3 linked regions of the Homo sapiens genome follow. The protein of the gene in region 2 interacts with the protein of the main gene of each other region in a biochemical or structural test. Each region holds a gene or a part of one and is shown on either strand. Other genes may lie near its edges. The genes, in order: COX17, CHCHD4 and CIAPIN1.

Region 1 (3,754 bases), about 110 Mb from region 2:
ACTACCTATAACAGTGCCTGGCTCATAGTAGGTGCTTAATGGAGGATTGTTAAATGAATGAATAAATAAGGAAATTAAAGCTTATAGTTATGAAATGGCCCCCAAGGTGGGTTGTGCAGTATCAGAACTGGAGCCTCAGTCTCCATGCCGATTCCCTCTGCTTTTTGCCCCTACCCTAACTTCCACACCACACTACCACTTTTAACTTAATAACAGCTGAGAGAGAATGCCAAAGCCATATGCCAATATATTAGTACTAGAGAGCCTGGCTTCTTTCCCTTGCACCTCTTTCCTGCCTCTTTGGAATTTCACATATGGCCAGTCTTCCTCACTGAGCTATAAAAAAGGAGGGATAAGGAACTTGTCGCAAGCTGATAAGAAGTTACTGTGTAATGGAAAACAGTCTAGGCTGAAAGTCCTGAGGCTTTGTTTTTATTCTCCTGATGTTTAGTTTATCATGTTTTTAAGTTTAGCTACATTTAGCTTCATCAAGACATTACTCCTCTGAATTTCACTTATTATTTATAAAAAGAGAACCATAATACATTTTGTGATTCTATATATAGTATGGTATATCTACTGTTGTGTAAATGATATACTTAAGTTGCTTTTAGAATAGATGGTTATTTAAAGAAATCCCATAATGAACTATTTTATAAAATAAGTAAATTTGAAGGGGAGTGTGTTCTTAAAAAGTATGTGTACTTTATTAACTATTTTTAAAGATGCAACCTTAACATTTGTACATGGTTTCCTTGTTCATGATCTAACTCCCTCGTCAGTTGTGTAAGCTGTAGGCTTGTGCTGAACTTGCCTTGATAAAAAGGGGTGATTAAATAAAAAGAAATGCTAATTTTAGGAATATCAAAAGCTTATCTTGGACTTCATCTGAACCACAAAGGTGGTACAATTGTTATAAGTGGCATATATTCAAAAGTATCATATGATATCATAGTTTTCTTTATGTTATCAGGGCAGAGAGTGAGAATTATGTTTGTGTACTTCATTTGTGTGTAAAAGAAAATGCAAAAGCTTTAGACTTAGAAAATCTACTGCTTAACTGATTGTGTGGTCTTGGGCAGGTCCTTAACTTTCTGTACCTTGGTTTCCTCATCCGTAAAATGGAGACAATAATACATGCCCAAACTACTTCATAGAGTTGTGATGATTCAATGTAAAATAAATCATCTGTAAAAACCAGAACAGAATAGCTCATACCTTTAGAGTTGTGGATAGCAGACATTCAGTTGAGGTCTGTTAAGTATATGACTTGATTATTATTGAATCCTGGTTACAAGAAGAACAATCTGAATCCATATAGGACCCTTCTGAGAATTCAAACTGCCATGTTTTTCATTTTCAGTGTAATAATATTTTGGGAAGAGGACTGGGTGTTGGATCCTTATTGGTCCCAGGTGTCCTATTTCCCCAACCTCCATGGGGAAATGGAAGCACAGTGAAGTCAAAAAAGACTTGCTCAAGTTAGGAGTGGATAGTGGTAGAATTAGATTAGAGTTAAGATTTTTATATTCTCTAAATCACAGGCACTTTACACTTCACGCCTTGTACTTAATGAGATTTTATTCCAACATATTCATTTTTAGGATTGCACATAATCTTGATCTTCAATCTTAAAACCTCATTATGAATGCTAATTAGAAAGACTTGTTGCGGAAATGTACAGTTGCATATAACCCAGTAAACAGGCCATTGGCTGGAGGGTGAAATCCAACACAACTGTCTGCATTGCTATAAGATAAACTTAACCTAAATCGGTATTTCTTAGACTGTTAGATCACATTTTTCTGAGAATAGCTTCAAAGGAAAAATATTTTGCAAACTTAGATCTCTCTGGCAACGATCATGAAAGTTCCTTAATTCAAAAACCTTTGTAGATTTTAATGTTATTCCTAAGTAGATCTTAATTGTACCTCAAGTGCAGTAGATTGGGAATAAATCTATTATACATTTTTTATACCTTACCTGAAAGTAGGCTACATTCACCCAGTGGTTCTTACCCAGAGGTGCACCTCAGAATCATCTGAAGAATGTTTTCCAGAATTCACAACTTGGGCCCTGGTCTGCACCTGTTGACTGAGAAACTCCTAGATGATTTTCAAGTGCACTCCTCTTTAACAACCACTGGCCTAAGTTGAAGATGAATAGCAGGGATAATGCTAGGCATAAAGTATCTGAAAATTTAGTAGTAGCAAAGGCAGAGACTTGAAAACTCAAGAAAAAATAGGTATGGTGGTGATTTTAGACAATTTTTTTCTATTTTATGACTGCTGCTTTTACTGAAAAGAGTAATTAGAAGAACCTAGAACCTCATTAGAAATATGAGGAAATAGATGGCTACTATCTTCCTGCCTTTAGGAGACAGAAGAAGCCTAAAGAACCTATTTTGGAGACTAAAGTCGTTGAAAGAAATTAAAGGACTAGTACTGAATAGTGGTGATACTCAATATTAAGTTTAACAACTTAACAGTTGGATGCTTAAAATATGCTGAATTGTACACACACACACACACACACACACACACACACACAAAACTGATCATGTATGAAAATATCCCAAGATAATCCAGAAAGAATAATTTCTGCCATTCAAACATTTGTTCATTCAGCAGATATTTATTAAGACCCTGGAAAATACTGAGGAGAGAAAGATTATCCCTCCAGTCAAAGACTTTACATCCAGAGATATAATCAAACAGGTTTAAATCCAGGGTCTTCCACCACACAGCCCCTTTTGTTATGTAGTCAGTCGCAAAAGTCGTAACAATGCTATGGGCTGCTATAATTGAAAGGTTGAATGGCTTCGTTTTTGGTTATCTTTCCAAACTTTTCTATAAATGTATTCTTCCTTTGAGTCTTTTAGAAAAGAGTTTAGATGTTTGTATCTTGATGTGGTTTATCTTTATTTAAACCAAATGAAGTGAACAGCTAAATGAAGGAAATATTTGCATTAGACTTGAAGAGTTAGCTACCCCAATTTAATTACCTTCCTAGCATTGTTCTCAATCTTCTGGGATAGGCACTGGGAGAGGTGTGAGAAGCCTGGTATTGACTTGACTGGATCAGCAACCCTATCTATGCTACTCTCCCTTTTTGATTTTTCCAAATGAATATTAAAGGGTTGCCCTTGTCTTGCCTTTGGGATTAAGTGAGTAACTTTCCACAGGAAGTGCCTTGGGTACTGAGCTGACCTTCTGCCTTCTACTTTGTGGATCTTCGCCAGGCATACTTGAATCAGCAAAGAGGGGTTTGCAGGTCTTGTTTCTTGAATATCTGTAAAAATAACTGCTTTAGCCTTTTTTGGAGGATATTTTTGAGAAATATGTATTTCTCAAACACACACATATGTATTATATATATATACACGCAGAGAGAGTTTTTACTTCAAAAACTTTTAAAGAGTAAATAATATCATGAATAATTTCACTAATGTTTTTAGTTAGGCAAACCTAGAATTTTAAAATGTTGATTTTGAATTTTATGACTGATTTGGAATAATTCTGGCAATTAGTTAATTACTCATCTGAGGCATTCATTTCTAGTGGTCTTAATTCCCTGACTCCATAGATCTGGCATGATGTTTGAAATCTGACTTTCTAAAATAAATATTTTTCTGTAGGTGGTCTGCTGTGTGAATAAATAATTCCTGAAGAATGAAGAAGATTAATTTTGGGAGTTCTTTGACGAACTTTGATATGTGGAAAAAGTATTTATAATTTATTGTAAGAAGAAAGTA
Region 2 (3,754 bases):
GTCTGAAAGCCATTTGTGTATTCTTCACAGACACTTGATTCTGTATGGGGGAGTTGTATCTTTCAAAGGGGTTAGATTCTAAACATGAAAGTCCTTAGCAGTCAGATTTATCAAACTCTTAGAAACCCCTTACCTCACTCAAAATACACCACAGGCACCACTCCCTCTGGCTTTAGATCTCTTTCTTGGGTTGAGCTTCAGAAAGTAGTGGTTGGAATTGTATCACAGGTGTATTGAATCAACTTAGCCAAAAACGAAAGAAAATAAGTCCTTAGTGCAGGTTGCCATTCTCAAACATGACCCTGGGGAGTCAGCATCCATGGGAGACAATAAACTGCTTCCTCTGCAGGACACAGGGGCATTCCTTCTGGGGTGGATGAGCTGAGAGATTCTGGTGTATAAAGATCCTCCCCTTTCATGGGGGAAATCAAACTACTCATCCAAGGGATTTTTTGGTCTCACTCACTTAATGGTGATAACCATTCTGTCTTCCTGCTTTCTGCTGGGACTGGGTGACAGAGCAGGAGTAGCGTCATCTCGGACAAACACTGGCACATTAAGTTCCAGCTCCCTTTCTAGCCTCATGCATTTCAAGGAAGTCACTTCTCTTCTAACTACAAGCAGCCAGAAAGAGCAGACAGTAAAACACAGACAAGACAGCTGGGACACAGAGGGAGGTGGGGGGAAAGTCTCTTGGGTGACTGCCAAACTTCACCCTCATACAATGGGCCCCAGTAAAACTGTGGGCCTTAATAAGCACATTCCTTTCCCTTCAGGTGTACTAAGATAGGGAAGCTAAAAGCAGTCTTGGGGGGATATGCCTGCAGCTGCAGAAAGATGTATGGAAACAGACACACCAGTCTGCCTCCCAGATAAGCACAACAAAGAGACACAGAAGCAGTCCAAGCCACTGATAAGCTCTCCCACCCTGAATCCTTAAAAACTCTTAGTCTGTAAGAGAGTGTGGCTCTGACCTAACTCAGCCAGCAGCCCCTCTCAGGTTTGTTTAAAATAAACCTGTCCCTGTTGACTGAAAAGCCACCCTTCGTGTTTCTCTCCTCTTTAATTCTTACACTTGGGTCTTCAAGCCCTAATCCAGAGTTGTTTCTCCATTCATTTTTTTCAACAAATATTGAACACCCACTTTGTCCTTGGTACTATTCTGGGCTCTCAGGATACTGCAATGAACAGAATAGACAAAAATCACTGCCTCTGAGGAGCTGACATTCCAGTGGGGGCATCAAGTGGTAAACATACATAGTATGTTGGGTGACGAAAAGCACTTTGGAGAAAGATAAAGCGGGATAAGGGAGATGGGCAGTGGTCAGGGACGGTGGCATCTGAGCAGGAGGTGAAAGCAGGGAGAAATCGCTGTGAGGGTACCTGAGGGAAGGGAAGGTGCTCCTGGAGGACAGAACACCCTGTGCAAAGGCCAGAGGTAGGCATGTGCTCAGCACATTCAAGTAAAAGCAGAGGCCAGCGTGGCTGGAGTGCAGGGAGTGATGGTGGGAGATGGGGTCGAAGAGGTGAGGGATGCAGCTCTTTCTGGATGTATTTGAAGATCGAGCCATTCCAATTTGCTGTTGGAGATGTGAGAGAAAGACGGGTTGGGGTGGCTCTACCGAGAGTAAAACTAAACAGCTGGGGGTGGAAGGTGTCTTTGTATCTGACTGCTCACTCAGTTCTGTTCTCAGCCCCACCCTGAAGTCCTGCACTCAGAGTAACCCCTCGGGCCTCCAGTTCCCCACTCTGACCAAGGTTCTGGGGTGGGGACTGAGTTGATTCTGGATGACCTCCTCCTTGTGCACTTTGAGTTCAGCTTTCTTCACTGGTTAAGTCAGAGAGCACTCGACCATCAGCTCTCCCATTTCCAAAACATTATTGACATCTCTGAGCCTGTGATTGTCTCTTTTCCTGGCCATGCTATCCTTGATGCCCTTTAAAAATTGCTGTCAAGTGGGATTCCAGCTGACAGCAGAAACTCATTTCACCTCCCCAACCACGTGAGGTAGGTAGGTGGAGCTGGTGGTAAGGCCTGGTTTCTGAGGCCCAGATGGTACCTGAGCTCATACAGTGGGAAGTGCTTAAGCCCAGATTTGAACTCCAGTTCTCAGACTCTCTGTGATATTGAAATATTGAAGCCACTGTGCACCAGAGGGTTTAAGGTAGTTTTCCACCTCCTTCAGAACATGCATATTCAACTGCTTTTAAAGCTTATCTTAGAAATAAAAACACAAGCACTTTTAAATTTTATTTCTCTAGAGAAATTGCTGACAAATGTCATGAGAACTACTAGTCTAGCTGATTGTCCCACTAGTTGGCATCTTACGACTAGTCTGACCAGTCCTTTCTTTCACAGTTAGGTCTGTTAGGAATAGGTAAGCCTTGTCCTTGCATCAGTCCTTGAATCGACTTTTAAAAGTTCCAGAAAGCAAAGGCCCTCTAGGACAGGCATACAATGGACAGTTTGTAGGGGACATACTCCAGATCTTTCAGACCAGAGTTCCTGTTCCTGTTCTGCCTTCATTTACTGCATGTCTTTTGGTCTGTTTCTCAGATCCTGTGGTCTCTGTAAAATGGAGATAAAGTAATACCCACCAGTGAACTCACAGATGTAATAAAACACATTGCATGGGACAAAAATGTGTAAAAGATACAGCTGTTACTGTTCTACTTTCGATCCAGTGTGAACTGTGCTGCAAGGGAAAATGTCCAGGAAGGCACATGTGAGGACCTGGCCCAGTGGGAGGGACCTGGAATTCTCAGTGGGATTGTGCTAGGCTGGTGTTTCCTAACCTGGCTGTGTATCACAGTCACCTGTGAAGCCCGTGAGCTACATGGACATGGCAGAGAGCTCGATTCAGCTTTTCTTGGGTGAGGCCTGGTCTCTCTATGTATGGCAAACCCCAGGAGGGCCTCATACTTTACCACGTTTGGACCCTTTGCTTTCTGTGCCTGTGACTGGGCCTCCCCGTTGGGCTGCGCTGAGCTGCCATCTCGGTAAACAAAACTGCCAGAGCTGAGTTGCGAAATTTGCATCAGCTCATTCTGCTTAGCGTTCAACATTTTTACAGATTGCTTTTGAGTATTTTGGAAACTGGCCAGAATAGTAGAATCAAGGTTACTAGGTACTTTAACAAGTCCTGGCTGCCTGGTCCAAAAGCTTTCCCCAGTCAGCCACAGGGGAAAAGCAGCCTTCTGTTGGATGACATGCAAGGTATTGAGGCAGAGGCCAGCTCTGGGAGCAAAAGCCTCCAGTGGGTTGGGGGTCCTGGCCCCGTGTGCTGAGGGTTTTTTGTTGTTACTCTGTTCTAGTGTAAGAGACCCTGTGCAGTGTGGGCATGGCGTAAGGCACCAAAGTGCCCTCCCTCTGTCCCCTGAACTGTCCTTCTCACTGGAGATGTCGCTCGGTTTTTGTTGTCACTGCCCCCTTCCTTCCAGAAGCCTCTTCCTTAATTACTTCAGCCCAAGCATGGGCCCAAACCTTTTTCCTTGCTTTCCCCTCAGCATAGCTGTGACTGAACTTTTCTAAATATAAACAAAAAGTATAAAGTGATCAGAGATGCCCGCAGCTTTCACAGGGCCACGTTTCTGCAGGTCCGGCCTCTGCGCCCACAGTGGCCACTCACTCAGAGCCATGCACTGTGGCTCTCTGCCAGGCACTTTTGGCCATACCTGAAGAAGTCTTCTTAAATGCTTGGCACCTCCTATCCCCTTCCAGATGAGGGTCCCAGTACCCCAGATCTTCTAGGAT
Region 3 (3,754 bases), on a different chromosome or scaffold from region 2:
ACATCCTGATAAATACTATTAAGATGAAAATGCATGTAATTCATCTAACCTACTAAACACAATTGCTTAGGTTAGCCTAGCCTACCTTAAACACGCTTAGGACACTTGCGTTAGCCTACAGTTGGGCAGAATCATCTAACACAAAGCCTGTTTATAATAAAGTGCTTAGTATCTCATGTAATTTACTGAAAACTGAAGTATACAGTTTCTACTGAATGAGTATTACTTTCATACTATCATAAAAGTTGAAAAATTATAGGTAGAACCATCATTAAGTCAAGGACCATCTGTACATTAAACAGAATAGGTTATTATTTTTTTTTTGTTTTTTCTTTGAGATCAAGTCTCACTCTGTTGTGCAGGCAAGAGTGCAGTGGTGCAATCTCGGCTCACTGCAACCTCCGCCTCCCAGGTTCAAGCGATTCTCGTGCCTTAGCTTCCCAAGTAGGTGGGATTACAGGCGTGTGCCACCACGCCTGGCTATTTTTTTTGTGTGTATTTTTAGTAGAGACGGGATTTTGCTATGTTGGCCCCAGATTGGTCTTGAACTCCTGGCCCCAAGTGATCTGTCCACCTCAGCCTCCCAAAGTGCTGGGATTACAGACATGAGCCACCACGCCCACCTGGTTATTATTGTTTGAATGCCTGCGAACCCATATAGGATTGAGCCTTTATTATTTTTCCTACTTTGAACTATAAAGCTATTAATTGGGATTTTCCTTTTGGCAGATAACAATAGCAAAGTGAAGACAGCATCTAAGCTGTGTTCAGCCCTGACTCTTTCTGGTCTTGTGGAAGTGAAAGAGGTACGTTTGTAGACAACTTTCTTTGCTGCCCTGCAGGTGAGGTAATCAGTATTGCTTAGAACTAGGAAACAAGAAATGCTGTGCATGTAAGATACATGATGCTTCAAAGGACAAAACTTGGGAGAATCGGCCGGGTGTGGTGGCTCACGTCTGTAATCCCAGCACTTTGGGAGGCCGAGGTGGGTGGATCACGAGCTCAGGAGATCGAGACCATCCTGGCTAACACAGTGAAACCCCGTCTCTACTAAAAATACAAAAAAATTAGTCGGGCCTGGTGGCAGACGCCTGTAGTCCCAGCCACTCAGGAGGCTGAGGCAGGAGAATGGCGTCAACCTGAGAGGCGGAGCTTGCAGTGAGCCGAGATCACGCCACTGCCCTCCAGCCTGGGCGACAGAGCGAGACTCTGTCTCAAAAAAAACAAAACAAAACAAAAAAAAACTTTTGAGAATAACCAACTTCAAAGAGACTCAGCTTGGCCCATGTGGGCTGGGGCTTGTTCTTGTCTCCTTGGTACTAGTTTAGTGGTGGTGACAGCTGAGGGGCATGAGCAGCAGCTCTGCTGCTTCCAACACCCACCTCTCAGTAGACCCGAATCCTAGGCCTGGGTGAACACTGCCATCTAGTTCAGCCTCACATTTTTGGTGGGAGGCTGGAATAGGTTAGAGGGCAAAGTTCCTTTTCTGACAATTCAGTGGAAATGTTTAAATTAAGCAGAAGTATTTATATTTCTACACTCTTTGATCTTAAAATTTTCTTGGATGTGGGAGAGGTAAATGTTACAGCATGATAGCTGTTGTGCCTGTTATTTCTTACATAATGTAGGGCCTTAAATTCTTTGTTTTTTAATTTTTTTTCTTGTTTTTGGAGACAGTCTCGCTCTGTTGCCCAGGCTGGAGTGCAGTGACACGATCTCTGCTTACTGCATCATCCGCCTCCTGGGTTCAAGCAATTCTCCTGCCTGAGCCTCCCGAGTAGCTGGGATTACAGGCGTGCGCCACCACACCTGGCTAATTTTTTGTATTTTTAGTACAGATGGGGTTTCGCTATGTTGGCCAGGCCGTTCTCTAACTCCTGACCTCAGGTGATCTACCCACCTTGGCCTTCCAAAGTGCTGGTATTACAGGCGTGAGCCAGGCCTTAGATTCTTTATGCCAGGCCTTAGATTCTTTATGCCAACCCTTTCTTATTTTTCCTTTTAGCTTAAGGTTTTCTGTGCTTGATTTTAAAATAAGGAATGTGTATTAGGCCATTCTTCTGTTCCTATAAAGGAATACCTAAGACTGAATAATTTATAAAGACAAGAGGTTTAATTGGCTCACTGTTCTGCAGACTGTACAGGAAGCACGGGCCTGCAACTGCTTGGCTTCTAGGGAGGCCTCAATGAACTTTTACTCGTGGCAGAAGGTGAAGCAGGAGCAGGCACATCACATGGCAAAAGCAGGATCAAGAAAGAGAGGAAGAGTCGGGGTGGGGAAGGTGCCATACTTTACAACCACCACATCTCATGAGAATTCAGATGGTGCTAAACCATTCATGAGAAATCTGCCCCCATGATCCAGTCACCTCTCACCAGGCCCCACCTCCAACATTGGGGATTACAGTTCAACATGAGATTTAGAGGGGACACATATCCAAACTATATCAGACTCCTCATAAAAATTCACTTTACACCAAAGCATACAGAATATAAAGTGACATCCCACTTCTTGCTCACACTTCCCTCCCCAGAGGAAGCCACCAATGCCTTTTTGTATGTCCGTTCAGACCTTTTCCTATGTATTTACAAGCATCTACATGCACATACTTTTTTAAAAATGTAAATAAGATCATAAGTATACATTGTTCAATCACCTTTTTTCCCACCCTTAGATATCATAGACACTTACCTACTTCAGTGTATTTCCCTTCATTCATATTAATGATGTAATAGTATTCCATACAATAGATGGACTGTGATTTATGTAACCAGTCTATAATTATTGGACATAGAGGTGGCACCCTGACCCTTTTTTTCTACCTTTACTCTCTGCTACTTTATCCCAAGGAACATAGAAAGGATTTTCCTCCCCCTTTTTCTTTTGGGATATAAATTTCTGCTGTCTTCATTGTGGGCATTCTTTCCTGTTACACAGTAGGACCACATCTGGTTCATTTTCATAATTGTATTACATCCCAAATAACTAGTATATGCCTCATCCCTAATGTTTTTTAAGTACTTTTACATTTTCCAAGGGGTAGGCTCCAAGTAAACATGCAGACAAAGGTTATACTCTAGGGTTCTGATCAGTGAGAAACTGAATGTGAGGCATAAAGTGTTATCTGTTACCATCCACTGTTACATCCTTAATGCACAGAAATGAGTCTTTGACTCCTGTGTAGGTAGACATAGTAAACCATTTTACAGAGGAGGGTGAACTAATCCTTTTGATGTCTTGAATTCTAGCTGCAGCGGGAGCCCCTAACCCCTGAGGAAGTACAGTCTGTTCGAGAACACCTTGGTCATGAAAGTGACAACCTGCTGTTTGTTCAGATCACAGGCAAAAAACCAAACTTTGAAGTGGGTTCTTCTAGGCAGCTTAAGCTTTCCATCACCAAGAAGTCTTCTCCTTCAGGTAAGGCTGGCCTAGGGACATTCTTCTGTTTGAATGGGCTTAGAGGGACATGTTAGAAATTGAGCCAGCAATAAATGAGATGGTGATATTTTTAGAGGATTAGTCCTTTGATTTCTGCCATTTCCACAAAGAAGAATACTTAATGTACTATTATCATGGGCATATTAGGATCCAAAACTGAAATAATACATAGGTATTATCTAGTTCAGCTCCTTCTTCTGCACCAGAAGATACCGAGGCCTCCTAATTTTACAGGACTGAGTCACACAGTTTAATTAATGAGGTCCTTCCAGGTCCCAGAATTAACGTTTCTCCTCAGAAGACCTCACAGTGTAG

Evidence for each region.
Region 1: the proteins of CHCHD4 (region 2) and COX17 form a complex in vitro, tested with the Homo sapiens proteins (one study listed by IntAct).
Region 3: the proteins of CHCHD4 (region 2) and CIAPIN1 form a complex in vitro, tested with the Homo sapiens proteins (one study listed by BioGRID).

What each region holds. Positions count from the first base shown.
Region 1 is NC_000003.12:119,669,549-119,673,302, reverse strand, and holds part of COX17 (cytochrome c oxidase copper chaperone), read left to right. Parts: intron 1-3,637; 3' UTR 3,638-3,754.
Region 2 is NC_000003.12:14,118,117-14,121,870, reverse strand, and holds part of CHCHD4 (mitochondrial intermembrane space import and assembly protein 40), read left to right. Parts: intron 1-3,754.
Region 3 is NC_000016.10:57,433,708-57,437,461, reverse strand, and holds part of CIAPIN1 (anamorsin), read left to right. Parts: intron 1-729; coding exon 730-806; intron 807-3,249; coding exon 3,250-3,418; intron 3,419-3,754. UniProt on the Homo sapiens protein: Component of the cytosolic iron-sulfur (Fe-S) protein assembly (CIA) machinery required for the maturation of extramitochondrial Fe-S proteins.